4 separate regions of the Homo sapiens genome follow, and all the other regions are linked to region 1. Evidence: fine-mapped expression QTL. A gene starts in region 1. Each other region holds a variant in brackets. All regions are shown on one strand. Distances are between the middles of the regions. Region 1 holds the start of CDK5RAP3 (CDK5 regulatory subunit associated protein 3). Region 2 overlaps LOC101927166 (a long non-coding RNA gene). Region 3 has its middle 28 kb from the start of CDK5RAP3. Region 4 has its middle 27 kb from the start of MIR10226.

What was found. PIP is the estimated chance that this variant, and not a neighbour inherited with it, causes the effect. A credible set is the group of variants that fine-mapping cannot tell apart.
Region 2: its variant is the best candidate, but not a certain one, in a credible set for the expression of CDK5RAP3 in whole blood (TOPMed, PIP 0.57).
Region 3: its variant is the best candidate, but not a certain one, in a credible set for the expression of CDK5RAP3 in activated CD8 T cells (Schmiedel 2018, PIP 0.85).
Region 4: its variant is the best candidate, but not a certain one, in a credible set for the expression of CDK5RAP3 in monocytes after triphosphate RNA (Kim-Hellmuth 2017, PIP 0.62).

Annotation. Positions count from the first base shown.
Region 1 is chr17:47,965,183-47,973,146 of GRCh38, forward strand. CDK5RAP3 (CDK5 regulatory subunit associated protein 3) reads left to right here and starts at 5,931. Exons shown (of 14, transcript NM_176096.3): 1 at 5,931-5,970; 2 at 6,180-6,225. The coding sequence starts at 5,965. RefSeq lists a silencer at 5,582-5,871 and an enhancer at 6,293-6,920.
Region 2 is chr17:48,453,682-48,461,645 of GRCh38, forward strand. LOC101927166 (a long non-coding RNA gene) reads left to right here. Exons shown (of 6, transcript NR_110804.1): 3 at 432-573; 4 at 1,338-1,592; 5 at 2,057-2,109. Among named protein-coding and RNA genes, the nearest start is that of SKAP1, 27 kb to the left of the region's middle. The variant A/C (reference allele first, on the strand shown) is at 3,660.
Region 3 is chr17:47,994,935-48,002,898 of GRCh38, forward strand. No RefSeq gene overlaps it. Among named protein-coding and RNA genes, the nearest start is that of CDK5RAP3, 28 kb to the left of the region's middle. RefSeq lists an enhancer at 77-675. The variant G/T (reference allele first, on the strand shown) is at 5,060.
Region 4 is chr17:48,003,633-48,008,632 of GRCh38, forward strand. No RefSeq gene overlaps it. Among named protein-coding and RNA genes, the nearest start is that of MIR10226, 27 kb to the right of the region's middle. RefSeq lists an enhancer at 1-10 and a silencer at 1-45. The variant G/A (reference allele first, on the strand shown) is at 3,028.

The DNA.
Region 1 (7,964 bases):
CCATGATAAGCATGGTGAAATAATGAAATACAGTGGCATCCTTAGAAGATGACAAACAGGACCCATTTCATGAAGCCACCCAGGGAGTTCTTTTTCCCCAGAAGACTAACAAAGGTGGAGGGATGAGGTGGCCAGGAGGGCATGAGTTGCCAGAGTTAAGGGTAAAATGAGTGGCCCCAGAGCATGACCCAGGTGACTGGCCCCACATAGACTTTCACTGGTCTGTACCAAACTCGTGAAGCTGACCACCCCTAATTTCTTCTCCCTGATTTCCTCCCTTCACTCCCAAGAGGCTCAGAGGATGTTGACTCCAAGTCCTGAGCTGTAGAGGAAAGGATGAGAAAAGGATCTGGGGACCTTGAACCTCTTGTCCCAAGACAAAGCAATCATGGTCCCCACTTATCACAACTACCACCAACATCAAATGCCTTCCTGCATATGGCTTTCCTTCATTACAAGCATCCATTAAGCTCCTGACACTCAATGTCAAGAGTCACACCGGATGCTGGGGTTATAGAGATGAACAAGTCTGCTTTGGCTTCCCAGCCCACAGGTACTCGCAGACTAGGTGGGGAGACAGACTGAAAAACGCAACATGCCGGGCACGGTGGCTCACGCCTGTAATCCCAGCACTTTGGGAGGCCAAGGTGGGCAGATCACGAGGTCAGGAGTTCAAGACCACCCTGGCCAACATGGTGAAACCCCATCTCTACTGAAAATACAAAAATTAGCCAGGCATGGTGGCACGTGCCTGTAATCCCAGTTATTTGGGAGGCTGAGGTAGGAGAATCGCTTGAACCCAAGAGGAGGAGGTTGCAGTGGGCTGAGATCACACCACTGCACTCCAGCCTGGGTGACAGAGCGAGATTCTGTCTCAAAAAAAAAAAAGGAAAGAAAGAAAGAAAGAAAAAAGCAACACAGTGGTTACACTCCGGGCAGCAAGAGGCCCAAGGCTGCTATGTTTCCAGAGCTTCCAGCCTAGCAGGCAGATACACCACACACACACAGGCACACACACCACACCCCATAGTCAGTGTGGCTGTGAGCAAACACACAGACCATAAAGTAATAAAAATATAGCAGATAAAATAAATGAGTTATTTGAATGTTGAAAGTAAGCCTTCTTTTATGGATATTGCAGGAGGATAAGTAATGGGCTCCCTTTCCCAGAATGGGGTGTGGTAAGAATGAACTTTGGAAAGGGGCAGGGCCTGCAGGGGTGGGAGTTCTGAGTGTCTGGCACAACAACTGGGGAGAAAATAGGAATCAGGCCCAAGGGAGGAAGAGACCTGAAGCTGTTGTGGCTGAGCCAAAGGGGTAGGCAGGGGTGCAGGAGAAGCAAAGGCACATCACACAGAGAAGAAGAATGCAGGCTGGGTAGCCCAACAGGCCTGGGTTTGAATCCCAGCCTCATCAACTACCCACTGTATGATTTTCCTTTTTTTTTTTTTTTTGAGTCTTTCTCTGTTTCCCAGGCTGGAGCGCAGTAGCACAATCTTGGCTCATTGCAACCTCTGCCTCCCAGGTTCAAGGGATTCTTCTGCCTCAGCCTCCCGAGTAGCTGGGATTACAGGCATGTGCCACCACGCCCAGCTAATTTTGTATTTTTAGTAGTTGGGGTTTCACCTTGTTGGCCAGGCTGGTCTCAAACTTCTGACCTCAGGTGATCCACCCGCCTCGGCCTCCCAAAGTGTTGAGTTCCATGTGTGAGCCACCGCGCCTGGCCCACTGTATGATCTGTATGATTTTCTTTTCTTTTCTTTTTTTTTGAGACGGAGTCTTTCTCTGTCACCCAGGCTGGAGTGCAGTGGCGCGATCTCGGCTCACTGCAACCTCCGCCTCCTGGGTTCAAGTGATTGTCCTGCCTCAGCCTCCTGAGTAGCTGGGACTACAGGCACGTGCCACCACACCCAGCTAATTTTTTGTGTTTTTAGTAGAGACGGGGTTTCACCGTGTTAGCCAGGATGGTCTCGATCTCTTGACCTTGTGATCCACCCACCTTGGCCTTCTAAAGTGTTGGGATTACAGACGTGAGCCACCGCACCTGGCCCACTGGATGATTTTCAACATGTTACGTAATTAATCTTTGGCTTCCTTGCCTTTAAAATCTGGTTAATGATGGTACCCACATTATAAGGTTGTTAGAAGAATCACATTAGATAAGGCTTGTAAAACATTTAGATCTACACTGGCACGTGGGCATGTTTATCACGTAATAAGCAAGCTAACAACAACAATAATGGATGGCAAGGTAGGCTGCCTACACGGTGCCTCGGGGCTCTGTGCTTCCTTGTCCAAAGCTGGTGCAGCCCTGGTATATCCTCCTCACCTCTCTACATGTGCTGCCCCTCTCCCAGGGTCCCATCTGCTAAATCAGCAGAGAACTGAGAGATTCCTGGTCAGAAACCTACCATACCTCTCTCTGCCTCCTTCTAGCTGCTGGGAGCCCCGATGACTAAAGTCTCCTGAAGGAGATAGAGTCGATGCCCTGGATGCCAGACCAATTATGTGCTTATCTACCCACAGACCCTGAAGTTCCCTGTGGCCTTGGAAAAGTGCAGAAACCCGCCAAAGGCCCATGCTCCTACACTCTTTGGGAACACAGAAGCATGTGCCTTTGGCAGGCTCTCCCCCAGAGCCTCTGCAGTCAGCAGAGGCAGGTTCTCTCCCAGAGCCTCTGGCTTTGGGACAGCCTCCCTGGAGTCAGTAGCTGGGCAGAACTGTTCTCAAACATCCTTCTGCTCCACGTGAGTCACCTTGGGGAGCTGTGGGTGGGGCTGAAGTGCTGGTGGTCCCTGCTTCCATCAACTCACCTGGGCTGGGTCTTCCAGACCCACCCTGTCCTGTTCTGCCCAGCCTGTTGGTTCAAGGAAGAGAGATAGATACACCTTGAGGGCAGGGCAGTGCCTTGCTCTTGAGATGTCCCAGACAGCCCCGAGCACATAGTTGGGGCCCAGTTAAGTGTGTGTTTAATCATGGAGGAGCCTGAGCAATTCCTACAGTCTGAGTCAGGCTGACTCAGATGGGAGCCAAATTCCCATGAAAGATCCCTGAAAAGGCCCTTAATTCAGCTCTATGAGCCATTTTCAGAGCAGTTTTTCAATCCGTTCTATAATAATAATGATCATATATGACATATATATATATTTTGAGATGGAGTCTCACTCTGTTGCCCAGGCTGGAGTGCAGTGGCGCAATCTGGGCTCATTGCAACCTCCGCCTCCCAAGTTCAGGTGATTCTTCCGCCGCAGCCTCCCGAGTAGCTGAGTAGCTGGGACTGCAGGCATGCACCACCACGCCGGGATGGTTTTTGTTTTTGTTTGTTTGTTTGTTTTTTGTTTTGTTTTGTTTTTGAGATGGAGTCTCACTCTGTCGCCCAGGCTGGAGTGCGGTGGCGCAATATCGGCTCACTGCAACCTCCGCCTCCCGGGTTCAAGCAGTTCTCCTGCCTCAGCTTCCTGAGTAGCTGGGATTACAGGCGTACGCCACCACGCCCAGCTAATTTTTGTATTTTTAGTAGAGACAGGGTTTCACCATGTTGATCAGGCTGGTCTCAAACTCCTGACCTCGTGATCCACCCGCCTCAGCATCCCAAAGTGCCGAGATTACAGGCGTGAGCCACCGTGCCCAGCGTGTTTTTTGTTTTTTTCAGAGATGGGATTTCACCATGTTGATCAGGCTGGTCTCGAATTCCTGACCTTAGGTGATCCGCCTGTCTCAGCCTCCCAAAAGTGCTGGGATTACAGGCGTGAGCCACCGCGCCTGGCCCATATATGATATTTCATATAGGGAGAGTTTACAAAGCATGAGAAATACAGCCACAGTATGTTGTAAACTGTCATGAGTTACTAGTGTGTTTATTTAAGCCTCTAAACAGAAATACCCTGAGATAGGATAGCTGTTATCTCCATGTGGGGAAACTGTGGCTATCAGATAGGTTATAGAAATGGTCCAAGACCTCACTGGGCAGAATCTAGGTCTTCCTGCTGCTGTATCACACTATGCATTTCAATCAAAAATTTACTAAGCCTCAAGTGTTGTGCTGTGGTGAACAGGAGCTGGGGAAGGAATATTTAGAAATGGCATACCCAGGGCCGGGCGCGGTGGCTCACGCCTGTAATCCCAGCACTTTAGGAGGCTGAAGCGGGAGAATCACGAGGTCAGGAAATCGAGACCATCCTGGCTAACACGGTGAGACCTCGTCTCTACTAAAAATACAAAAAAATTAGCCGGGCGTGGTGGCGGGCGCCTGTAGTCCCAGCTACTGGGGAGGCTGAGGCAGGAGAATGGCGTGAACCCAGGAGGCAGAGCTTGCAGTGAGCCGAGATCGTGTCACTGCACTCCAGCCCGGGCGACAGAGCGTGACTCCGTCTCAAAAAAAAAAAAAAAAAAAAAAAAAAAAGAAAAGGCATACCCAGCGCTGTGAGATCCTGGGGGATCTGGCCTCAGCCTACCCTCCCTCCTTACTCTACCCACTTCTTGGCCAATCTCAGACTCTCCCTTAGCTTCAGCCACCACTCGGACCACAGATTAGCCAGCTTGTGACTCTCCAAGCTGTATCTCCAGCCCCGACAACTCCCTCGAACTCCAAAATTATAGACCCAAGTGCCTTCTGCACACTTTCCATCTGGGGGTCTCCCAGCATTGCCAGACTAGGTTCAAAGCTAGACCCCCTCCTCCCCAACACCTGCTCAGCATCCTGCATCCCTGTCTCAGGTGGTGGTTCCCACCTAATCACCTAGGTGTCATCCTTAGTGTCTCTCTCCTCCACCCAAACAGCCAATCAATTGCCAAGTCCTATACATTTTCCTCCTAAATATTCCTCAGATCCAGCCCTTCCCCTTCCTCCTCATATCTTGTGTCCCAGCTCAGGCTATAATCCCTCGATAACAACCTCCTTCCAGCCTCCTTGTCCCCAGTCTTATCTCCCATGCATCCATCATCCCAGCAGCCTATCTGTACAGGTTCCTCCCTGCCTCAAACCCCTTCTGTGATTCCTCTGTCTGAAGGGATGAAGTCCAAGTTCCTTAATAAGTCTCCCTTTGATATGGCCTTTCCACCCTTACAGCCTCTCCTCTAGCCACTCGCTGCCTCAAACCATCTACGGTATAGAGGTTGGCCTGCCCGCGGAGCCGACTTCATCTTGAAATTCTTCATCATTTTGTAACAAGCAGCTGTGCATTTCCATTTTGCACTGGACCTCACAAATTACGTTGCCCGTCCTGCCTGCCTGTTGTTGCTTGCACCCCTCTTGCAGTTTGTGGCCACCTAAGCTTTGTCTGTGTAGTCTCCTCCACCTAAAACTCCTCTTCCCACATCACCCAGCTATCTTCAGCTCTTCGTTTAGACTCAATGTAGGTGTTCTCTTTGGGACGTCTCACCGACTCTCTTCCTTCCCCTTCCCTGCCCTAATCGCCCAACACGTTGCAGGTGCTCAACCATGTCTATTAGAGAAACTGAATGAGGAGGCAAAGCATGACAAGTGCCACAAGAGACCTGCACACTGCTCTGGATGGTAAAGCGACGCAAGGAGGGAAGAAGGTATTTGCAACGGCCTCCCAGATCGGCGCTAGGACCCCGCCAGCAGACGTCTCAATCTGCGTGGAGAAGACCCAGTGCCCGCCAGGGGAAGCGGCTGCCAGGCTGGGCTCTCGAGCGCCGCCTGTCGCAATCCCACGGCCGCTGCAGCGCACCCCCTCCCGTCCCCTGCCCTGAGCCCGCCTCGCGTCTCCAATTGGCTGTCTCCATTCTCCCGCCCCTCCCGAGCTCAGCCATTCGGAGCCTGGGGTGGGCGGGGCTTGAGGCCTGAGTGGAGCGTAAACCCTGATTGGCTGTACGGAAGGCGGCGACGTGGCCGAAGGATGCCCGTTTGTGTCTAAACGGAGGCTCGGCCACAACGCCACTGGATTGGTGGTAGGGCGGGGCGGGCCACAGTCTCCAGCCTGAAGCGGAAGTGGAGGAAAGATGGAGGTGTGGGGACAGGAGCTGGGTGTGCTGGGGACTGGCCGCGGACCCCTAACCTGTGTCTCCGGTCTCCCTCCGGAAGCGGCTCAACCCAGCCCATCGCTCTGGCCCCGTTCTGGCCCTGCAGGGTGGTGGTTGGGACGTTGAAATGAGCGCGCGAGTGGTACGTCCTCTCTCCGCGCTCACGCCCCCCTCCTCACCGTGTTTCCCGCCAGGACCATCAGCACGTGCCCATCGACATCCAGACCAGCAAGCTGCTCGGTAGGAGGGGGCGCCACCGCGCAGCTGGCTGTCGGGGGGAGGCCTGTGCGTTGCCCCCTGTGTCCAATAGCCGGGAGCTCTGACCCCTGAAAGCCTGAGTCGAGATGCTGACCACTGGCCTCGTTCTATGCCCCATCTGTGGCCAGACCTGCTTCCCTGATAGCAGCGGGAACGAACCATATGTACAGTCTGTTTGACCTGCGTTTTCTCCTTTAATAACATATGTTATCGTATCATTCAGGGACAGGATAAATGACTCGCTTTAAAAACAGTCAACCACTGCCGGGCGCGGTGGCTCATGCCTGTAATCCCAGCACTTTGGGAGGCCGAGGTGGGCGAATCACCTGAGGTCAGGAGTTCGAGACCAGCCTGACCAACATGGAGAAACCTTGTCTCCATGTCTCCATGACTAAAAATACAAAAAAATAAAAATAAAAAGTAGCCGGGCATGGGAGCACATGCCTGTAATCCCAGCTACTCGGGAGGCTGAGGTGGGAGAATTGCTTGAACCCCGGAGGCAGAGGTTGCGGTGAGCAGAGATCTCACTATTGCACTCCAGCCTGGGCAACGAGAGCGAAACTCCATCTCAAAAAGAAGACAAAAAACAGTCAACCACTAAGTGGCACATCTGAATTGGAACTTAAGTCTGTCTGACCCACTGTCCATGCCTTTTGCATTATGCCAGGAAAAAAAAAAAAAACCTCATTTAAAAAGCTTCCACCTCCCCCTTGATTTTAGGAGGAAGAGGGACCTAAGACCCAGTTGCAAATGAAAACCTTTTAGTGTCCAGGCCATCTCCAGGTTGTCTGTATGGGGCTTACATACTTCCTCCCCAGTTCATAGTCAGGGAAGGCCTCTTCATCTGATCACACAGCTCCTGGCATTTTAAAATGCTTATTGGATTCATGGATTTGATGCCAATCTTGTCCTTAAGATGGTGTCTGTTTGACTACCCCAGTCCGTTGCTTCTAGTTCTGTGACATCAACAGAATTTTTCTTTCTGAAAACTTTACAGGAATATAGCAGAGAGAGTATAACTGATACTAGTGTGGGACCCCAGCGTTTGACCGGTTGGCAGAGTTCAAGTTCTGAATTCACCACTCTGTAGTGCCATTTAGTCAGTCCTGCTTGGTGGTCACGGGGGAAGCTTCTTTAGCCTCCCTTCAGATTTGTACTGGCCCTTCAGCCCATGTGCAGTCTTGGTGTGTGAGCTTGTTCTTGGTCATGAAAAGGACCAATAAAATGACCACCATTCATTGAGGGTTTTTTTTTGTACCAGGTGCTGTTTTAGGCACTTGACATGATAAAAATGATCACTGTCATTTTTTGAGTCCTTGCCGTGTCTCAGGCACACTGTTCAGTGTTTTACCTGCATTCCCTTTTCTAGTCAGTGTCTTATTATTCCCCATTTTACATGTGGGAAAACTGAGGCACAGAATAGTAGACTTGCTCAAGAAACTTGATAACGAGAACCCAGGACCATCTGACCACAAAGCTCAGCTCTTAGCTCTCACTGAGGAAATATGCATGGCTCTGAAGCCACAAATCTGGGCCCAGACTTTGAGAGGTCAGTCCCATTGGTATTCACATGTACAGGGTGGTACTTCACTGTTCACAACAGAGTCATGTTATCTAGTCCTTAGGGCGCTGTAGGTATTAGGGGCTTTGCAGCTGTTCATTCATCCAGTACTTGGCATAACCATCTTGTATTTTCCATTGTCATGGTTAACCCCAGCCCT
Region 2 (7,964 bases), 490 kb after region 1:
GACAAGAGTCTGCTGTTCAGGAAGACATTTATAGTCACAGCACAAATTAACAAACACATCTAAATGGCCTTGATCTTCTTTTATACTTCCTGCCTAGGTAGGAAGTTGTGGTCTCAGGAGCTAGAACCACAGATATGAAGAAAATGGCTTTAGTTGGTAAAGAAAGTAGTATATAAAGTAGCAGCTGCATTTAAGTCCTCAAATGCTGTTATAGATATTTAATTTTGTTCCATGTTTTCTCAAATATACTTACTGCTTCTCAAATATACTTCTGGCAGAGCTGCTTCTCACGACAGAGACTGAAAAACCAGATTATTGCTTTCTCAGTTTCCCTTACAACTAGGAATGGCCTTGTCTTAGTCCATTCATGCTGCTACACCAAAATACCTCGGACTGGATAATTCATAACAAGAGAAATTTATTGCTCACAGTTCTGGAGCCTGGGAAGTCCAAGATCAACGTACCAGCAGATTCAGATGAAGGCGTGTTCTCAGCTTCATAGGTGGTGCATTCTTGCTGCTTCTTCACATGATGGAAGGAGTGAACAAGCTCCCTTGGGCCTCTTTTACAAAGGTACAAAGCTCCACCATCATGACTTAATCGCCTCCTAAAGGCCCTACCTCTTAAAATATTGCATTGGGGATTAGATTTCAATTTATGAATTTTGAAGGGACACAAACATTCAGATTATATTAGGCCACATGACACAGTTCTGGCCAAGGAGAGGAAGGGGAAGACTACTGGGAGACGTCTGAGGACATTTTTATTCTAGTTAAAAAGACGAGTATGCATGAGGCTCCTACTCTTTCATTCATGTCTATGAATATAGTTGTATGAGCACATGATTTCTTCAACCATGGCAACCATGCAAGCCTAGAGACCAAGAGCCAACACTGAAGGTAGAAAAGCAAAAGGATGAAGGAAGCCTGGTCAGTCATAGCATTTTTCAGCTGATGAACCAAAATAAGACCTCTACATTTCTTATTTTGTGAGAGAGTAAGAACTTTTATTGACACTTTTAGTTTTTTGTTACCTGCTTCTGCATTTTGACACATTCAAAATATAAAATGATACAGAATCTATATCATTGTAAGTACATAAAATATGTTAGTGTGTGGATAAGGACAGGATGGTATTGGTAGGGGCAGGAAGCAGGGAAATTCTCGGCAGAAAAGGGCAGGGTCCCTGGCGAAGCCCCACCCTCAAGCCTAGAACCGCGGTCCAAAGTGAGAGCATGCATTCCTATTTTCTTGCTCAAATGTTGCCTTTTCCAAAATCACCATGACCTGTCTCACCCCTCATCCTGTACCCATTAAATCCCCTGGCCCAACTGGCAGATGGCAAAGAAGGAGAGAAGAGAAGAAGTAGCCAGACATTGGAAAGAAACAGCTTGACTTCAGAGGAATGGCTTGATGGTGGGACTTAGGAGAAGTGTACAGCAGGGGACTGCTGGACTCCATGGGAAGATCACCTTCCCACTCCATCCCCCTTCCAGCTCCCCATCCTGCTGGGAGCCACTTTCATCAGTAATAAAATTCTCCGCATTCATCACCCTTCAATTTTTTCATGCAACCTTGGTTGCAAGGACTCAGGTATGGGTGCAAAAGGTTGTCACACTGACCCTCCACTGAGCTGTTAACACTTAAGCCATTCATGGACAGAAAAGCTAAAAGAGCACACTGTAACACATGCCCTCTGGGTCTTCAGAGGTTGCGGGTACCCCCACAGATGCTGCTGCAGGGCTGCACAGTTTTGCTCCTGCCAGCACCCAAAAGCAGTCACTCTGGCTCCTGCACCTGCTCACTTGTGTGCTCCCCCTCCTGTGAGGGATTGAGAGCTGGGGGCTAAGTAACTGAGGCACCCCTGTTGCAAGGTCCATGAAGGGGTCAAGGAAAATTTCCTGTTTCAGTACGATGACTAATACCAAGACCAGAATGTTCTATAGAGAAGTGTTGGGGGAAAGGGAGAGCAGGGTCCCATTCCTGGACATTCTGATTTAATTGGCTTGGGGTAGGAGCCAAGCATTGGTATTTAAAATTTTAATTTTATTTTACAGGTGGAGAGACGAAGGATCAAGCAATGTGACTGGTAGAAACTGTGTTATACAAGGTAAACCAAGAGAGAATTGTGCAAAAATGTCTTCAGGGTCACTTCTTTCCCTAACTTGGTCCCTCAGAGTTCTTTCCACTAGATATCCAGTGTGTTCAACCTAACTCCTATCTGCAGTGGGCCTCCAAATATTGCACCCCTATGGGCAGGGCTGTGTGTCATTTCCCTGGCCCCTATCTGGGTCAAAACTGTCATTCCTCCAGGGACCTGCTGGGCAACTAGCAAACTAATCTTCAATGTATTTTACCCAAGGTGTTAATGACAGATAATGGCTTAATGCATTACCCCTCCCAGCTAACATTTCCATTTTAATAGAGCCTTTAAATGCTTTAACCTGAAGGAAACAGCATGAAAAATGCAGGGATAGCAAATATCTGGCACCTTTGCTCCTTCCCTGTTCCTGGAAGACATCTTCAAATGGTCACTGAGGCTTTTCCTGCTATGCCTGGACATACCCTGAGAAGCCCATAGGGCCCTGGGCAGCCCCTACCAGCCTATGATGGGAGTTACCATGCAAGATGAAATCTATTTGCCAACCTTATCGTGAAACAAATATTTGTCCAGGAGTAAAAAGACCTGAATTCTACTTTGGGGCTTTGACATTACCTGGACATAGGGCCTAAACAAATTTATTAGACATTTCCAAGTCTCAGTTTCCTTACCCATAAAATGAGAGGACTGGCATTAGAGTCAAGCATTTCCAAAGCATAGTTCTCAATCTGCCAGGGACTCTCAAAATCTGACCTCACAGCTCTCCAAGCTGGTTGCTGCTACCACGTACCTCTTCCCATTTTTGCCTTGCTTCCCACAAGGGAAGGAAATTCACTCCCAACTGGGCACCACCTTTCTATCTCTATTTGGGGACCTTCCTGTCCCTGAAAGGCCCTGGGAACATAATGTAAAGCAACTATGGGGGCAGCTGCTAAGAAGCCAGATCTTGTGACACTAAGAGTCCAGTCACGTGGTTCAGAGTCCACAGCAACCTGTGGCGACTATGCAGTCATCAGCCAGAGAGGCAGAGCCTCTGTCTGGAGATGTGTCAGAAATGGGTGTGACTAGTCCCAGACACATCAAGTGAGGAAAAATCAGGTGTGCAGATTACGTTGTGTAAATGCCTTTCTAATTCTCAATGCTCCAGGAAGGAATCTCAGAGATTAAATTAAGCTGTTAACCCTCTAGGCGCTCCTGTCGTTTATTGTTAAGGAATTAATAGGAATGCGGGAATGCAGATGGCCTGGCTGTCAGCTCGGAGAGGCGATTTTTCTGATCTCCAAGGAGGTTTCCAGCATCTTTCATTAAGCACTCGTGTACCAACTTGTCATTTTAACCGAGCAGCAAAGAAACTCCCACTCAACTGCCTACCTCAGGTGCTGGGAGTGCAATCCTCGGAGGAGTCTTTCTGGGTTGCAGGTGCAGGGGAGGCGCCCAGGTGATGGGGGTGGGGTGCAGCGAGAAATGGATTTAAAGCCACTCCAGGAAGGAAATCGGATCCCAAAACCTGGTTGTCCTGGGCACAGGCTTCAGGTGACTGCAGAAGATTCCTCTCTAGC[A/C]ATCCTGAACTGAGCAGAGATGTGAAAACTTACTTCTTTCCGCTTTCTCGAAGCGCTCCAGGACGCAGGTGGCACGCTCAACGCGGGGAGGCGCCACCTACAGGACAGAGGAAGACCTGCAGCTTGGGCTTGAGATTTCAACAGTCTGTGGCGGGGGCTGATGAGGGCGGCCCCTCCTCCTCCTGGAGTAATAATAGTCCCTGACATTTATCGAATGCTCTTCTCGTGCCAGACACTGTCCTGAGCACTTGACATGTATTAATGATTTTAAACCTCACAACAACCCTATTAGGTAGGTGTTATTTTCATCTTCATTTTATGGAATAGAAAACCACAGTTCCAGGAGAGAGAGTAATTTGCCCCAAGTCACCCAGTTAGGAAGTGGGAAGTGGAGACCCCGACCCTGAGTAGGCACTAAGGCGGGTGTGGTGGGATGGTTAGAGTCGGGCGCAACTCTACTCATGGTTCACAGCATTCAACTCTATGGGCCCTCAATTCTGCAGCTTTGGTTTACCATTTTTTGAGACTCGCTTACTCGTCTGGAAAGGAAATCTTTGCTAAGGTAATCATAACCTTGTATAATTTTTAAAGAGATGGAAAATGACAAACATCGCATATTCTCACTTATTTGTGGGATCTAAGAAAACAATTGAACTCCTGGAGATAGTGGAAGGATGGTTACCAGAGGCTGGGTAGTGGGGGGCCTGAGGGGGAGGTAGGGTGGTTAATGGGCACAAAAAAAAAAAAAATAGAAAAAACGAATAGGACCTAATATTTGATAGTACAACAGGGGGACTATGGTCAATAATACTTTAATTGTACATTTTGAAACAACTAAGAGTATAATTGTATTGTTTGTAACACAAAGGATAAATGCTTGAGGGGATGGATACCCATTTTCCATGATATAATTCTTACACATTGCATGCCTGTACCAAAATATCTCATGTGCCTCATAAGTGTATACACCTACTATTTACCCACAAACATTTTTGAAAAACCAAGGCGAAAAAGTGGGCACAGTGGGGCAGGGATGCTGGAGATTGTGTATCTCTCATCAGTTCATTTTTTCAGTTATATAGATGAGTATGAGAGAGGTAAGGGACCCAACCACGTGCACAATCTCAGTGACAGCGCAAGAACTGGAACCCAGATTTCCTCACTCCCAGCCCAGTGCTTTCCCCCCGTGCTACATTCATTCTTTAATCATCCATTGACAGGATGGATTCTGTATGTGGGATGGAAGGTAATCACACACAGTGTGGCTTCAGAGGCTCCAGGCCCACCCTCTGACCAAAATATACATTTCCTTTTTTTTTTTTTTTTTTTTTGAGACAGGGTTTTGCTCTGTTGCCCAGGCTGGAGTACAGTGACGCAATCTCGGCTCACTGCAACCTCCACCTCTGGCTTCAAGCAATTCTTCTGCCTCAGCCTCCTGAGTAGCAGGGATTACAGGCACACTCTACCACACCCAGTTAATTTTTGTATTTTTAGTAGAGATGGGGTTTCGCCATGTTGGCCAGGCTGGTCTCAAACTCCTGGCCTTTAGTGATCCGCCTGCCTCGACCTCCCAAAGTTCTGGGATTACAGGTGTGAACCACCATGCCCGGCTCAAAACATACTTTAAAAAAAACCTGGTGGCTGTTGCGTAAAATTCCACCATTAGTGGCTCATTTTATTCACTAAGACTTTGATCCTATCCACTTAGGACCAGTAAGGCTTTTAACTGTTGGCCATCATTTCATGTGTATGTAATTGAGTTCTAAAGCAGCGCTACTCAAAGTGTGGTCCACAGACAGCAGCATCAGTATCATCTGCAAGCTTGTTAGAAACGCAGGTCATGGCTTTCACCCAGACCTACTGAGTCAGAATTGCCCTAGTTCTCAAACTTCTGTGTATGTGCTTAACTTCTCATCTGAAGAGCTTATGAAAACACAATTTCCTGAGACAACTGTTCCCCACCTCAAACCCAGAGATTCTGATTCAGCAAGTCTGGGGAATGCACCCCAAAATTTGCATTTCTAACAGGCTCTCAGGTGATGCACCTGAGACCAGCTACTGCTGGTCTGGGGACTATACTTTCAGTAGGACCTAAGGAGTTCCTGATAACAGATATTGGGGAGGGAGAAGAGGGAGAATGAGCACACTGAGGTAGAAGAAGGAAAGGTTATCACCAAGGGTGCAAAGGGTACAGAATATGAAGCCTTGGAGTCAAAAACTGCTGAGGGTGTGAGTGCACAATCACGTCTTTCCATTTGAATACATTCAAATATTTAGATCCTTAAGTGATTCAATACAATGCATGCATGTTTGTTAGCTGGATTTACTGAGCCTATGGTAAAATCTGCTCTTGCATCACCTTTTGCTGAGCCCTGCCTGTCTCAGTTACAAATGAAAATCTTTCCAGTCCTCTCTGACCATCAGTTAGTTTTCCAATTTCATTCCAGAGTTAACTGCACTGTAGCAGCAGACAAAACTGGCCCGATGGCAGGAATACTGTTCCCCGATGGTATCAGAGCCATCTGTATTTATGTTTGCTGTGTGACTGTCACTTGTATACAATCATGCAGAGACTCTGATATTAAGACTTGGCCTGGAAATCACCCCCATGGCACAGCTCTGGTGGAAAAGGAAAAGGGGATTCAGTGGCAACCAGATATCAAACACAAATTACATTGCCCTTGTACCAAAACAGGCATCTTTAAGAAATCATGTCTTCTGGTCTTCCTTTGCTATACTTCAGGTAATATGGTACCCAGAGGAACCCAGAGAGATAACAACCTCTTCTATTTGTAAAGACCACTTGTGAAGGAAACTCCATAACCTCCCTGTGGTGGAGTGTATTATTGCTCAGCAAACATTCATTCTTCTCTATTTCCCTCCGTTGGGGGAGCAAACTTCCCCACTCCATTGATGATGGGTCTAGCCATGTGACTTGTTTTAGCCAATGGAATGTAAACAGAGGCTTTAACTCTACTTGCTTGGTTAAGCTTGGTCTCTTGCACCTCTACCCTTTGCCACGAGAAGAGCATGCCCTTGTCACTTCGGCCTGAGTCCCAGAATGAGAAGTTACATGGAGCAGACCTGAACAAGATTCACAACCTGAACAGAATCACTGCAGCCAATCCACAAACCTGTGAGCAAAAAATAAATGTTATAAATTTCTGAGATTTTAGATTAGTTGTTATGCAGCATTATTTTAGTAAAGTTGACTGATACACTCCCTCAGGTACCTGTTCCACTGAACTTTTGCTGCAAAGTTCTTCATTGTGTCTAACCTAAATCCGTCATACATTAATGTAAAGATCTATCTCATTTGTGGTCCAAATGAGGGATCACTAGATTACATCTTTGATTCTAAATGTCCAAATCTAGCTTGAATTGTTTACTATATATTTAGATGAATAAAATAGAGGTGCATTCAGGGAATTATTTGCATTTACAAAGTATCATCTATGGTTTTCCTTATTGGAGCTATTAGAAGGTGGGTCCTTAAGAAGTGATCGTCTTCAGGAACCAGAAAAGTAGCAATGGGAGAGATGAGAGTTTGGAAGCCTAATTAAAATATTATAGAACTGAGCCAGGTGTGGTGGCTCACACCTGTAATCCCAGCACTTTGGGAGGCCGAGGCAGGCAGATCATGAGGTCAGGAGTTTGAGACCAGCCTGGCCAACATAGTGAAACCCTGTCTCTACTAAAACTACAAAAAATTAGCCAGGTGTGGTGGTGCACACCTGTAATCCCAGCTACTTGGGAGACTGAGGCAGGAGAATCTCTTGAGCCCAGGAGGCAGAGGTTGCAGTGAGCCAAGATCGCACTATTGCACTACAGCCTGGGTAACAGCAAGATTCAGCCTTGAGGAAAAAAAAAAGTCATAGAACTGCCTTATTTTCTCTTATCTTTCTTTCCTAGCAGTTTATAAATTATTTATTTCCTAGCAATTTGCAATTATTTTATTTGCCTATTTTCTTTCTTTTTATTTGTCTGTCTCCCCCATTAGAAAGTGTTTCCATAAAGGCAGGAACAATGTTTGTCATATTCACAACTTTATCCTCCAGTACTCAGCAAACTCTGGCATGTAGCAGTCCCAAAAAAAAAAAAAAAAAAAAAAAATTCAGTAGAGACAGGGTTTCACCATGTTGGCCAGGCTGGTCTCAAACTCCTGGCTTCAGGTGATCCACCCTTTTCAACCTCCCAAAGTGCTGGGATTACAGGCGTGAGCCACTGTGCCTGGCCAAAAAAAAATTGTTAAATAAATTCTTTCTAATAAGGGCATGTCACTAGAGCAGGTAAGGGGGAAATAAT
Region 3 (7,964 bases), 30 kb after region 1:
AAGATTGAGGACCTAATGGAGGCGATCAGCACCCCCAGAGCGGGGGATCTCCATCCAGGCTTGGGAAGGAGGGCAGAGTAGTGCTAGTTGGCTTCTTTGCCCACCCTGAGATCGGGGTGTACTTGAGGGGGTCCCTGGAACTGGGGGCATTCTCTGCACCCCATCTTTGGGGCCTCTGGACAACCTCTGTCCAGGAAGCCACATTGCAAAAATTTCTCTCCTTGTCTCCATAGGATACCTTTGACATTCAGGGTCCCTTTGGGGAGACCCAGCCTCTTGAAGCTTTCTGCTTGCTCTGAGGAGGGGACACTCCCACCCTTACCCCACCCCCTCTCCTGACTGCCAGCTGGCCGGCGTGGGAGCCGGGCTTCCACTGCCCATTGTTTCTCAGCTCTCCTCCCATGGTGGCGGGGTGAGCCTCATCCCCCAGGTCAGGAGCACAGGGCAGCCCCTCCCCCTTCCCTCCCTGGGCTTCAAAGGCCCAGAGGGACTAACCCTTGTCACCATGGGGCCTCCCCTCTGGGAGCCATGATGGGGGCGGCTGCCCCCAAAGCAGCATTCAGTGGCTCCCTGGGAGTGAGCCGAGCAGGCCGGGAGGTGATCACAGGCATGTATGAGGTCAAACGAGGGAGGTCCCAGGCAGACGGCTTGGGAAAAGCTTGGGGATGGGAGAGAGGCAGCAAAGGTGATTGCAGTAATTAAAGCAATGAGCCCGCTACTTCCAAGAGGAGCTAATCCTAGCACAGCCCAGGACCAGGTGCTGTGTTTCCCATGTGCCGCGTCATTTCTCCTCACAGAAGCTGCGTAATACCAAAGCTACATTGCACACATGGAGAACATCAAGCTCAGAGAGGTTAAGTAATTTACCTGTGTCCCACAGAAAGGACCTGAAAAGGACTTGGACTCATATTATTTGACTCTGGAACCTTACTCCTAACTACTGTGCCAGGTGCTGAACTAGGCAACTGGGAGGGAAAACAGAATGGGTCCTGGGCACCCATCTTCAAAACACTCACCTGACTTCATACATGTCTGCAAAATGTGTGTTTCTTGCCAAAGAGCATCCAGGCATCCAAGAAGCAATGTTTTCACTGAGCCTACAAATATAGAAATTTCTCCCTCTTCTTTTCAGCTCTCCTTCCCCTTCTAAGTGTCTTTATTCCTCTTCTTCCCAGGCTAACATTCTCTCCTCCCACCATCTGCTCCCAAGGTGGCTGATACTGCCCACCTTGCTTCCCTGGGGATGGAGGGGTCTGGGGCTCATCCCTCCCCCAGGTGCTGTAATTTGTGAGGCTGCCCAACTGGAGTGGACCCAGGGCCTCCCAGACTGCCCTCCCGCCACTGTGAGTTGGCTGGCCTCTGCCCTCTGCCCTCTTCTGCCATTAACCCTGTCACCTGCCGGACATCAGCCTCCAGGCCCAGTCTGTCATCCATGGCCAAAGATGGATGGGGGGCGGCTGGGAAGCATAAGCAGCGACCCCTTAATGAGATCTGGCGGGGGAGGGCTGGGCTCTATCAGGCAGCAGCAGGGCCAGGTTGGCGATAACAGGCTCTTGTGGAGCGTGACCCATTTTCCTTCTGGAGGAGAAGACAGTCGGGTGAGAAGCTGCAGGACAGGTTTGGGGGACGGGTCACAGGGTTCTTTTACCACCCACCCCTATCCTCCTTCCCCTCTTCTGGCAAACCAGACTCGGTAGATGGGCAGAGGCTATGGAAAACAGATGACCCCCACTTCTCATTCCTCCTCTTTGGCACGGTGACCCCAGCTCCTAAGGAAGAAACACGGACACAAGGAATGACTAGGACACAGGAGACCAGATACCAGGCTGGGGCAGCCCCAGTCAGCCCTGGGAGATGTCAGAGAAACTGGAGGGAGGGGGCCTTTGTGGGGTGTCTATGGAGTGAGGAGCATCTTCAGAGGTGCAAGGAAAGGGCCTTTGTTGAAGCTGGTGAAAGAGTGGGATGCAAGGGTTGGGGGAGAACCATTATTGCGTTACTGGGTGGTCTCCCTACCATTTCCCCCCACGGTGATTCATGGCATTTTATTTAATTTATTTATTTATTTATTTATTTATTTATTTTTGAGATGGAGTCTCACACTGTCACCCAGGCTGGAGTGCAGTGGCGCGATCTCGGCTCACTGCAAGCTCTGCCTCCCGGGTTCATGCCATTCTCCTGCCTCAGCCTCCAGAGTAGCTGGGACTACAGGCACCTGCCACCATGCCCGGCTCATTTTTTGTATTTTTTTTTAGTAGAGACAGGGTTTCACCATGTTAGCCAGGATGGTCTCGATCTCCTGACCTCATGATCCGCCCACCTCGGCCTCCCAAAGTACTGGGATTACAGGCATGAGCCACTGCGCCCGGCAATTCATGGCATTTTAAAAGAAAGAGATGCTGGGCCGGGCACGGTGGCTCAAGCCTGTAATCCCAACACTTTGGGAGGCCGAGGCGGGTGGATTGCCTGAGGTCAGGAGTTCAAGACCAGCCTGGCGAACATAGTGAAACCCTATCTCTACTAAAAATACAAAAAATTAGCCGGGCTTGGTAGCGGGCTCCTGTAATTCCAGCTACTCGGAAGGCTGAGGCAGGAGAATGGCTTGAACCCAGGAAGGGGAGGTTGCAGTGAGCCAAGATTGTGCCATTGCACTCCAGCCTGAGCAACAAGAGCGAAACTCTGTCTCAATAAATAAATAAATAAGATGCTGGAAAGTTCTAGACTTTCATTGTACAGATAGGGAAGTTGATGTCCAGAGAGCGGAAGAGATCCACCCAAATAAGTAGAAGAGCCAGAGCGAGAATCCAGGGCTCTTGAAGACCCAGGCCTCCGCTCAGCACTGCACCACGCTTCCTTCTTGCTCCTTACCCGGGAAGAAAATACAACAGCTGCTGAAATAATTATTCCTGGACTTGTCTAAAAGGGGTTATTCTTTCCCACTTCCTCCCCCACCCCCTCAACCCACATACAGTGCATTGCCCAAGGACTTTTCGTAGGTTTGGGAGAGAGACTTGGGGGAAGAGGGGTGAGGATGCTTCTTGTTTCATCCAAGTCAGAATGGGAAATAATTTACTCCCTGAGGACATGAACAGGGTTGGGTCAAAATAGGACTCTTCAAGTTTGAGGGGTTTGTTTGGGTTTGGTTTGGTTTTGCCCAGCAAAGGTTGGCTGCGAGACCCTTTGGCCACTTATTTTGACATTGGCCACTGTCGATTGCCCCCTGCGCTCCTGCCTGGGTGCTGCTGTGGTGATGCCTGTCTCCTCTCCTCCCTGCCTATGACAGTCCAGCTGAGTTGGATTGTGGAGTGTGGCATCTGGTGGTTCGGGGATCAGGGACTTTTGAATCTGGTCCTAGTAAGCTGTGTGGCTCTCAGCAACAATTAATCTTTCTAGGTCTCAGCTGCCTCATCTTTAAAAGGTAGTAATAGAAAAGTCTTCACACTTTTTTTTTTTTTTTGAGACAGTCTTGCTCCATCGCCCAGGCTGGAGTGCAGTAGCGCAATCTCGGCTTACTGCAACCTCCGCCTCCCAGGTTCAAGCCATTTTCCTGCCTCAGCCTCCCAAGTAGCTGGGATTACAGGCACCCACCACCACACCTGGCTAATTTTTTAAATGTATTTTTAGTAGAGACGGGGTTTCACCATGTTGGCCAGCCTGGTCTCAAACTCCTGACCTCAGGTGATCCACCTGCCTCAGCCTCCCAAAATGCTGAGATTACAGGTGTGAGCCACCATGCCTGGCCCACACTTCTTTTTAAAAAGAAGGACCAGGCTGGGCAACGGTGGCTCATGCCAGTAACCCCAGCACTTTGGGAGGCTGAGGTTGGAGGATCACTTGAGCTCAGGAGTTCAACACTAGCCTGGGCAACATGGTGAAACGTTGTCTGTACTAAAAATACAAAAATTAGCTGGGCATGGTGTTGTATGCCTGTAGTCCCAGTTACTCGGGAGGCTGAGGCAGAAGGATGGCTTGAGTTCGGGAGGCAGAGGTTGCAGTGAACTGAGATCACGCCACTGCCCTCCAGCCTGGGTGACAGAGCAAGACTTTGTCTTAAAAAAAAAAAAAAAAAAAGACCAGAACCAGTGCCATGCTGAAGCTGGCTTGCACTGGATCCTAAAAGCCAATTATGTGCATTTCCCAACTTTGCACTGGGATTTCCAGTTGGTGGCTTGAAATGGGCTTTTGTGGAAATATTTACACCACAGAAATAAGCAAAGGCTACAAATCAGGGCTTCAGCACTCCAAGTGAGAGCCAGCCAGTAAACTTTTAGCAGCACGACACTGGCCAGAACTCTAACATGTTATATAAAAACACATAAACAGGCTGGTCACAGTGGCTCATGCCTTTGGGAAACCGAGGTGGGCGAATCCCCTGAGGTCAGCAGCTCGAGACTAGCCTGGCCAACATGGTGAAACCCCATCTCTACTAAAAATACAAAAATTAGCCGGGCATGGTGGCGCATGCCTGTAATCCCAGCTACTCAGGAGGCTGAGACAGGAGAATCGCTTGAACCCAGGAGGCAGAGGTGGCAGTGAGCGGAGATCATGCCATTGCACTCTAGTCCGGGCGACAGTGTGAGACTCTGTCTGAAAAACAAAACAAAACAAAACAAAACAACAAAACAAAAAAACACACATAAACAGAACTGCTTTGGTTGGTTGAAACAAGGGTTCCCCACTCCCCTCACACACATCAAGCTTTGCCAAAACCCAGGACTTGAAGTCTGAGATTTGTGCCAGCTCTCAATCCTGTGAGTCTAAGTAACAGGCCACAAGAGGTGATGCAGGAGGAAGAATGACGAACAATGATGAGGCTTAGGTTTTATGACTGTATTTAGCTAATCGAGCCTTGTCTGTGTGGGCAAGTCAACTTTGATGATCCAGGAAGCACCTCTGGAGTTGCTTAACCCTGCAGGTCCCAAGGCCTTCTGGTGGCCTCGGCAGGTAGTGGCACCCTCCAGAGCAGTCTCTCACTAGCGGATCTCTCAGTGGGTGGCAGGAGGATGGCTTTAGGGGAGGGAATGTCACCCACCTCCCCACAACTGTGCCTCTGCCCTGCAGG[G/T]TGAAGGTAAATGAAGTGACATTTGAATCCATTCAGATACTGCAGGAGAATGAATGCTGAATGAATGAATGAATCCAGGGAGAGCTGGAGCCAAATAAGCTTCATCAATTTATGTGGTGGGGAGGATGCTAGCCAGGAAGTGGAGGCCAGTGTTCAAATGCAGGGCTCAAGCCATAGCTCCAGCAGTTCCTGACCATGACATTTTTTGTATTTCAGTACCGTTTTGTAGAATGGGGCTACTGAACCAGGCTTAAAATCGTATTTCAGTCTGGTCTTTATGATGGGGACGGTAGGGGTGAACATGGAGCTCTCATTCTGCATGTAGTGGAAGGGCCCACCCCGCAAGCATGTTTCGCTGCTATTTTTGCCAAGGTTCTGTGAAGATTTCAATATTCCCAAGCTTGCTATCTTTCAAGCCTAGTAGAATCAGCTGGGCTGATATCTTCTAGCTGGTGGGAAAAAATGCCAGCAAGCAAAAGAAAAGGAGAGGAGAAACAAATGTTTGTAACTGAAAGAAACCTGGCATTTAATCTAGTGATTTCTATCTGCCAATCATCAGAATTGTCATTACCTGGGACAATTTAAAAAGTACAATTTCTAGGCCAGGCGCGGTGGCTCACGCCTGTAATCCCAGCACTTTGGGAGGCCGAGGCAGGTGGATCATGAGGTCAGGAGATTGAGACCATCCTGGCTAACACGGTGAAACCCCGTCTCTACTAAAAATACAAAAAAATTAGGCGGGCAAGGTGGTGGGCGCCTGCAGTCCCAGCTACTCAGGAGGCTGAGGCAGAAGAATGGCGTGAACCCAGTGAGCCAAGATTGCACCACTGCACTCCAACCTGGGTGACAGAGCGAGACTCCGTCTCAAAAAATAAATAAATAAATAAAAATAGGCTGGGCGTGGTGGCTTACGCCTGTAATCCCAGCACTTTGGGAGGCCAAGGCGGGCAGATCATGAAGTCAGGAGATCGAGACCATCCTGGCTGACACGGTGAAACCCCATCTCTACTAAAAATACAAAAAATTAGCTGGGCGTGGTGGCGGACGCCTGTGGTCCCAGCTACCTGGGAGGCTGAGGCAGGATAATGGCGTGAAACCAGGAGGTGGAGGCTGCAGTGAGCTGAGATCGCGCCACTGCACCCCAGCCTGGGCGACAGAGCGAGACTCCGTCTCAAAAAATAAATACATAAATAAATAAATAATTTTAAAAAATAAAATAAAAAGTACAATTTCTTACCCTGCCTCTAGACATACTGATTATTAAAAATCTCCCGTTGGGGAGGGGTCTGGTGTTTGGGAACCAGCACACTCCCTCTCCTGACCTCCCACAGCAGAGGGTGAAGGCTACCACCAGCTGACCAGTCATAAGACTTTGTCTTCTTTCTGTTTCTAAAAGAGATTTCCTCATTTTCCCTTAGCAAATAGGGAAAGACCAAAAAAAAAAAAAAAAAAAAAGAGTTCTTTCCCACAGCTAACCTAAATCTTGGCTGCATTTCTAGGCCTCTCATCTGCATAATAACTTCACTGATGATTTCAGAGTTTGCTTTCTTCACCCTGAATGTTCTGGGTTTATTTCTTCATTCAATAAAAATTAATTCAGCACCTCCTACTCACCAGGTCCTTTAGTAGCTGTTGGGGAGATGAGCAAAATGGACACTATCCTTGGCTTTTGCATCTTATAGCCTTTTAAGGGAGTCAGACAGTTAAATTTGCAATGGTGGCTCATGCCTATAATCTCAACACTTTGGGAAGCCAAGGCAGGAGGATCGCTTGAAGTCAGGAGTTTGAGACCAGCCTGGGCAACATAGTGAGACCCTGTCTCTACAAAAAATTAAAAAATTAGCCGGGTATGGTAACACATGCCTGTGGTCCCAGCTACTTGAGAGGCTGAGGTGGGAGGATTGCTTGAGCCTGGGAGGAGGTCACGGTGCTTCAGTGAGCCTTGATTGCACCACTGCACTCCAGCCTGGGCGACACAGCGAGACCCTCATCTCTAAAAAATAATAATAAAAAAAATAGCATGTCAGGATGTCAGGCTAGGGCAGATGTTGGGATGGTAAGATGGGGTGGGGCAAAGCCTCCTGAAGAAATGAAGGGTCGGGTATGGTGGCTCATGCCTGTAATCCCAGCATTTTGGGAGGCCGAGGCAGGCGGATCCCTTGAGCCCAGGGATTTGAGACCAACCTAGGCAACATAGCAAAACCCCATCTCTACAATAAAATAAAATAAAATAAAATAAATAGCTGGGTGTGGTGGCGTGTGCCTGTAATCCCAGCTACTCAGGAGGCTGAGGCAAGAGAATTGCTTTAGCCTGGGAGGTGGAGGGTGCAGTGAGTGGTGTTTGTACCACTGCTTTCCAGCATGTAGCAAGAGAGTGAGACTCAACTGGAAGGAAGGAAGGAAGGAAGGGAGGGAGGGGAAAGAAGGAAAGGAGTGCTAATTTGCGGACTTAGGATAAGTAGCAGTTAGTCCAAGGATGTGGAAGGGAGGGTGGAGAGCAAAGATCCTGGCAGAAAGACCAGCATATGTGGGGCTGAAGGCAAAAAAACAGAGAATGCTTGACAAACTGAGTGAAAATTCATACAGTCGGGCACTCTGCCTCACAAATCCTTCTGTCATTTCTACAGTTCTCCCAGAAACCCCTTGAAACTCGCCTGTGACTCTCTAGGCTCCCTGGAGTCCAGAGCAAGACAAAGAACTTTTGTCTGATCAGCTGAGATATAATGAGAATGACCCCCAGGTTCCTTATTTATGCATCCGGCATGCAGCTTGCTTTTGTAAGAATAGCACTGTATTGCTGACTCATAGTCAGCCATGCATTTTACAATAATCCCACAATGTCTGCCCTGGATTTTCTTTCTGCCTAACTTCCTGTTCAGCCTTCTTTTAAAAAGCCTTGCCTCTG
Region 4 (5,000 bases), 37 kb after region 1:
CCGTGGCCTTGTGAGACTGAAGCACAAGCTCCTTCCTCAGCTGCCAGGGAAGAATTTAATTACCAATTAAAGCCCCCTCCATCTGTTTCGGGCCTGCCAGAGAGCTCTCTCTACCCTTTAATTACATCTCTGACAACAATTTAACTCAATTAGCTGGTAAACACAGCAGAATGCAGGCAACCCAGGGCACCCTCTTGTCCCTGCCATCTGTCTGTCCGTCTTGTGCTTTCCCAACTCGCTCTCAGTCTGTCTGTCCTGCCCCTGCTTCCCTGTCTCATTTTGACACCGCCCCCCACCCCTTGGTTTTCTCTTTTTCTTCTGTCTTCTCCAGCACCTCTTGTCTGTTTCACACCAGCTGGGTTTCCCCCGCCCTCCGCGTCTTTGTCATTCTGTCTTCCTCTCCCATCTGCTCTTTGTCCATCCCTTTCCCGTGCTCTGTCTTGTTCTGTGCATCCCAACTTTCTCTCTTACTCTGCCAGGCTAGTCTCCAATGAGCCTTTTCCTTCCCCTTTCCTTCTCCCCGTCTTCTTCCTCCTTCTCCGCCATCTGTCCTACATTAACCAAATCCATCCCTTTCAGCATCTCCTCTGTGAGCCTCCTTTCTGGTGTGTTTCCCTTAACCCCTGCCATCTCCTTTTGCTTCATCCACTTAGCACAAACAAAGGTGAGCCCTAGGAGCAGTAGTTGCCATCTTTTGAGCACTTACTTTGCCAGTCATTGGCTAAGAGCTTTACATGCATTATTTTGTTGAATTTTTACAAAAATTGTGTGAATGGGTATAATTATTCCCATTTCACAAGTGGAATAATGGATCCTCTGAGAGATTTTGCCACTTATCCAAGGTCACAGAGCTTGCAACTGATAGAACTAGGATTCAAAGCCAGGTCTGTTTCCTTCAATACTGCATGAGATACCCGAGGCTGGGCACAGTAGCTCATGCCTGTAATCCCAGCACTTTGGGAGGCCAAGGTGGGCAGATAGCTTGAGCCCAGGAGTTCGAGACCAGACTGGGCAACATGATGAGACCCCCGTCTCTGCAAAAAATATAAAAATTAGCCAGAAGTGGTGCATGCCTGTAGTCTCAGCTACTCAGGAGCCTGAGGTGAGTGAGTCACTTGAGCCCAGCAGGTCGAGGGGAGCAGTTTTAAGGATGACAGAGAGGCCTGAATATTTGGGGAAAGGCTCTGTGTTGTTGAAATGAAGGGCAAAGCAATAGGTTCCCAGTTAACATTGGGAGGGAGGTGGGTAGAGAAGGGTAAAAAATAGAAATCATTTCTGAGAATTTAACCTCCTCATTTCTGCTGGAAGGAACTTTCCAGATTCTAGTTTACTACAGTGTTGAAGAAGTTCCCCAGTCCTCTGAGAAAGTAAAAAATGTCCAGGACCTACAGGAATAAGAGAGAGGGAGAGAGAGAAACAAGTAGGCTATAATTATCCTAGCAACCCTCTCCTGGAATGGGGGCGGGGGTGGGTGCTGCAGAGAAGGGCAGCCTGATCCGTCTTGTGGACAGGCAGGGACATGATGGAGACCCCAGGTCAGCCAGGTAGTCACATGGCTGCAGCTTGGGCAGACCCCAGCCAGATAAAACTCATCTGCTTTCTTCCCCCATCCTTCCTCGGCTGACTAATCACTCTTCCTGTGATTAAAACAGAAAAGAACTGGGGGGAAAGGCTACAGGAGAGAAAGAGAGGCTGTCTCTGATCTCTGTTTTCTACCTTCCTTTGCTCTTGAGATGTGCTGTCCATCCTTGGGGGTTTGCTCCGCTTGGTGTTTAGAACCCACATATTCCACTAACTCACACCTTCACCTTGCCTTCTGCCACACTAAGAAGAGTGCTGGGATTCCAGCGAAATTCCTCAAATGCAGAAACTGTGCTCTGAGAGCAAATGCCAGTCAGCTATGGGTTAGAGTCAGCCTCAGTAGGGAGACTGGCACAATACCCAGCTTTTTTTTTTTTTTTTTTTGTTTTTTGTCCTGTTTTTGTTTTTGTTTTTGAGATGGAGTCTTGCTCTGTCACCCAGGCTGGAGTGCAGTGGCGCCATCTCGGCTCACTGCAACCTCTGTCTCCCGGGTTCAAGCGATTCTCCTGCCTCAGTCACCCAAGGAGCTGGGATTACAGGCACGTGCCACCATGCCTGGCTAACTTCTGTATTTTTTATAGAGACGGGGTTTCACCATGTTGGCCAGGCTGGTCTCGAACTCCTGACCTCAAGTGATCCGCCCACCTTGGCTTCCCAAAGTGCTGAGATTACAGGCATGAACCACTGCATGTGGCCTCTTTTTTTTTTTTTTTTTTTTTGAGACAGTCTCACCCTGTTGCCCAGGCTGGAGTGCAGTGGCACAATCTCAGCTCACTTTGACCTCCACCTCCTGGGTTCAGGCAATTCTCGTGCCTCAGCATCCCAAGTAGCTGGATTATAAGCACGTGCTACCACGCCTAGCTAATTTTTGTATTTTTAGTAGAGACGGTGTTTCATCATGTTGGCCAGGCTGGTCTCGAATTTCTTGTGTCAAGTGATCCGCCCGCCTTAGCCTCCTAAAGTACTGGGATTACAAGCATGAGCGACTGTGCCTGGCAGAATTTTCAATATTACAGATCTCTCAAGAAGTCCCATCCTGCAGGCAGACATGGAAAGTTCTGGACAGAGGCAACTAAGGGGCAGGATGGAAGGCTGGAAAAGAGATGGGGTAGGGAAGCAAGGAATTCAAAATGAAGAAGCTCCCAGTCCAGTCCCAAGCTTTATACAATCAGTGGGTGTGTGGGCAGTTTCTGTAAACATTATATAATAAAGACCACAGAGAAGAGAGGCTGGTAGGTGTTTTTTTGTTTTTGTTTTTGTTTTTGTTTCTAAATAGACATGTAATTACCTAGAACTTTAGAGTTCAACAGACCAGCAGTCTACCTAACCTAGGGTCCTTCCTGTTGCAAGAATTATTATTATAGTAGCCCTCATAATAGCCTTCTTTGGATACTTCCAGCCACAGATAACTTATTACCTCACTAGGTAATACCTTTCTATTTTCAG[G/A]CTGTTTTAATGTTTTTTTTTTGTTTGTTTGTTTTTGTTTTTTTTGAGATGGAGTCTGGCTCTGTCACCCAGGCTGGAGTGCAGTGGTGCCATCTCGGCTCACTGCAAGCTCTGCCTCCCGGGTTCACGCCATTCTCCTGCCTCAGCCTCAGGAGTAGCTGGGACTACAGGCGCCCACCACTACGCCGGGTTAATTTTTTGTATTTTTATTAGAGACGGGGTTTCACCGTGTTAGCCAGGATGGTCTTGATCTCCTGACCTCGTGATCCGCCCTCCTCGGCCTCCCAAAATGCTGGGATTACGGGCGTGAGCCACCGCGCCTGGCCCTGTTTTAATGTTTAGAAAAATCTTTCTCATACTAAACCAGAGACTATTTCCCTGTAATTCACCTCCTTCTGTCCTTTTTTCATTGTGTGAATTGATGGAGAATATGTAAATCTTCCTCCACAGTTCAGATGCCAATCAAATGTCTAGAAGGCAGCCAAAAGGAATCCCTGAGAGTTAAACATTCCTAATTCCTTCACCTATTCCTCAAGTGCTCTCCTTTCAAAATCTCACTATTGTTTATATATCCCATAGGCTTTTTCATTAGCAATGCCTTTCTTTATAAATAGTGCCCCAGACCTAAAGATTAATTCCAAAGGGCACAGGATAAAGAAAGACCATCACCTCCCTTGTTCTAAAGACTGTATTTTATTAATGCAGCTCAGAATCTATAATTTTTTACAGCAGACGCAGATCACAGCAGTTTTATTTGTTTGTTTGTTTAGAGTTTCACTCTGTCTCCCAGGCTAGAGTGCAGTGTCACAATCTCGGCTCACTGCAACCTCCGCCTCCCGGATTCAAGCAATGCCTGTGCCTCAGCCTCCCAGTAGCTGGGATTACACCACCACGCCAAGCTAATTTTAGTATTTTTAGTAGAGACAAGGTTTCATCATGTTGGCCAGGCTGGCTCGAACTCCTGGCCTCATGTGATCTGCCCTCCTCAGCCTCCCAAATTGCTGGGATTACAGGTGTGAGCCACCATGCCCGGCCCATAGTAGCTTCTCTATCATATCAGCATATTGAGGTTGCAGGCAACTAAACTTACTGTTTTTAGTATATGTCACTCTTAGACCATGTCTTCCTCATTCCTACTGAATTAACTCTTTTGGTGACAAGTATAAAACTTATTTAATTCTTTTAAATTTCACCTCACTCAACTCAATTTAACACTGATGGAGCATACATCATGTTAAACTGTGTTCGATTTCGGCCAATGTTTCCATCCTGCTAAGATCTTATTAAATCCTTAGCCTGTCACCCGAAACATTAATTCTCTCTTTTAGCTGTGTGTCATCCACAGAGCTGATGAGCTTGTCTTTCATGTTTTCACCCAATCCTGATAAAGTGTTGAAAAGTACAGTGCCTCCTAAGAGGACCATTTTGAAAGAATCAACATCTGGCCGGGCACGGTGGCTTATGCCTGTAATCCCAGCACTTTGGGAGGCTGAGGTGAGCCGATCACGGGGTCAGGAGATCAAGACCACCCTGGCTAACATGGTGAAACCCTGTCTCTACTAAAAAAAAAATACAAAAAAAAAATTTGCCATGTGTGGTGGTGGGCACCTGTAGTCCCAGCTACTTGGGAGGCTAAGGCAGGAGAATGGCGTGAACCTGGGAGGCGGAGCTTGCAGTGAGCCGAGATGGCACCACTGCACTCCAGCCTGGGCAACAGAGCGAAACTCTGTCTCAAAAAAAAAAAAAAAGAAAGAAAGAAAGAATCAACATCTAAATGAATCTCTCTCCTTCAGATGGAGGCTATATAGTTGGTTTTTTGGTAACTTTTTATTTTGATAAATTTCAAACTTATAAAAAAATGTCAAAAATAGTACAAAGAACTCCCATGTGCCCTTTACCCAGATTCATCAATTGTTTACATTTTGCTCCATTCATTTCATCCTTATCTATCTACATGTTTACATATGCATTTT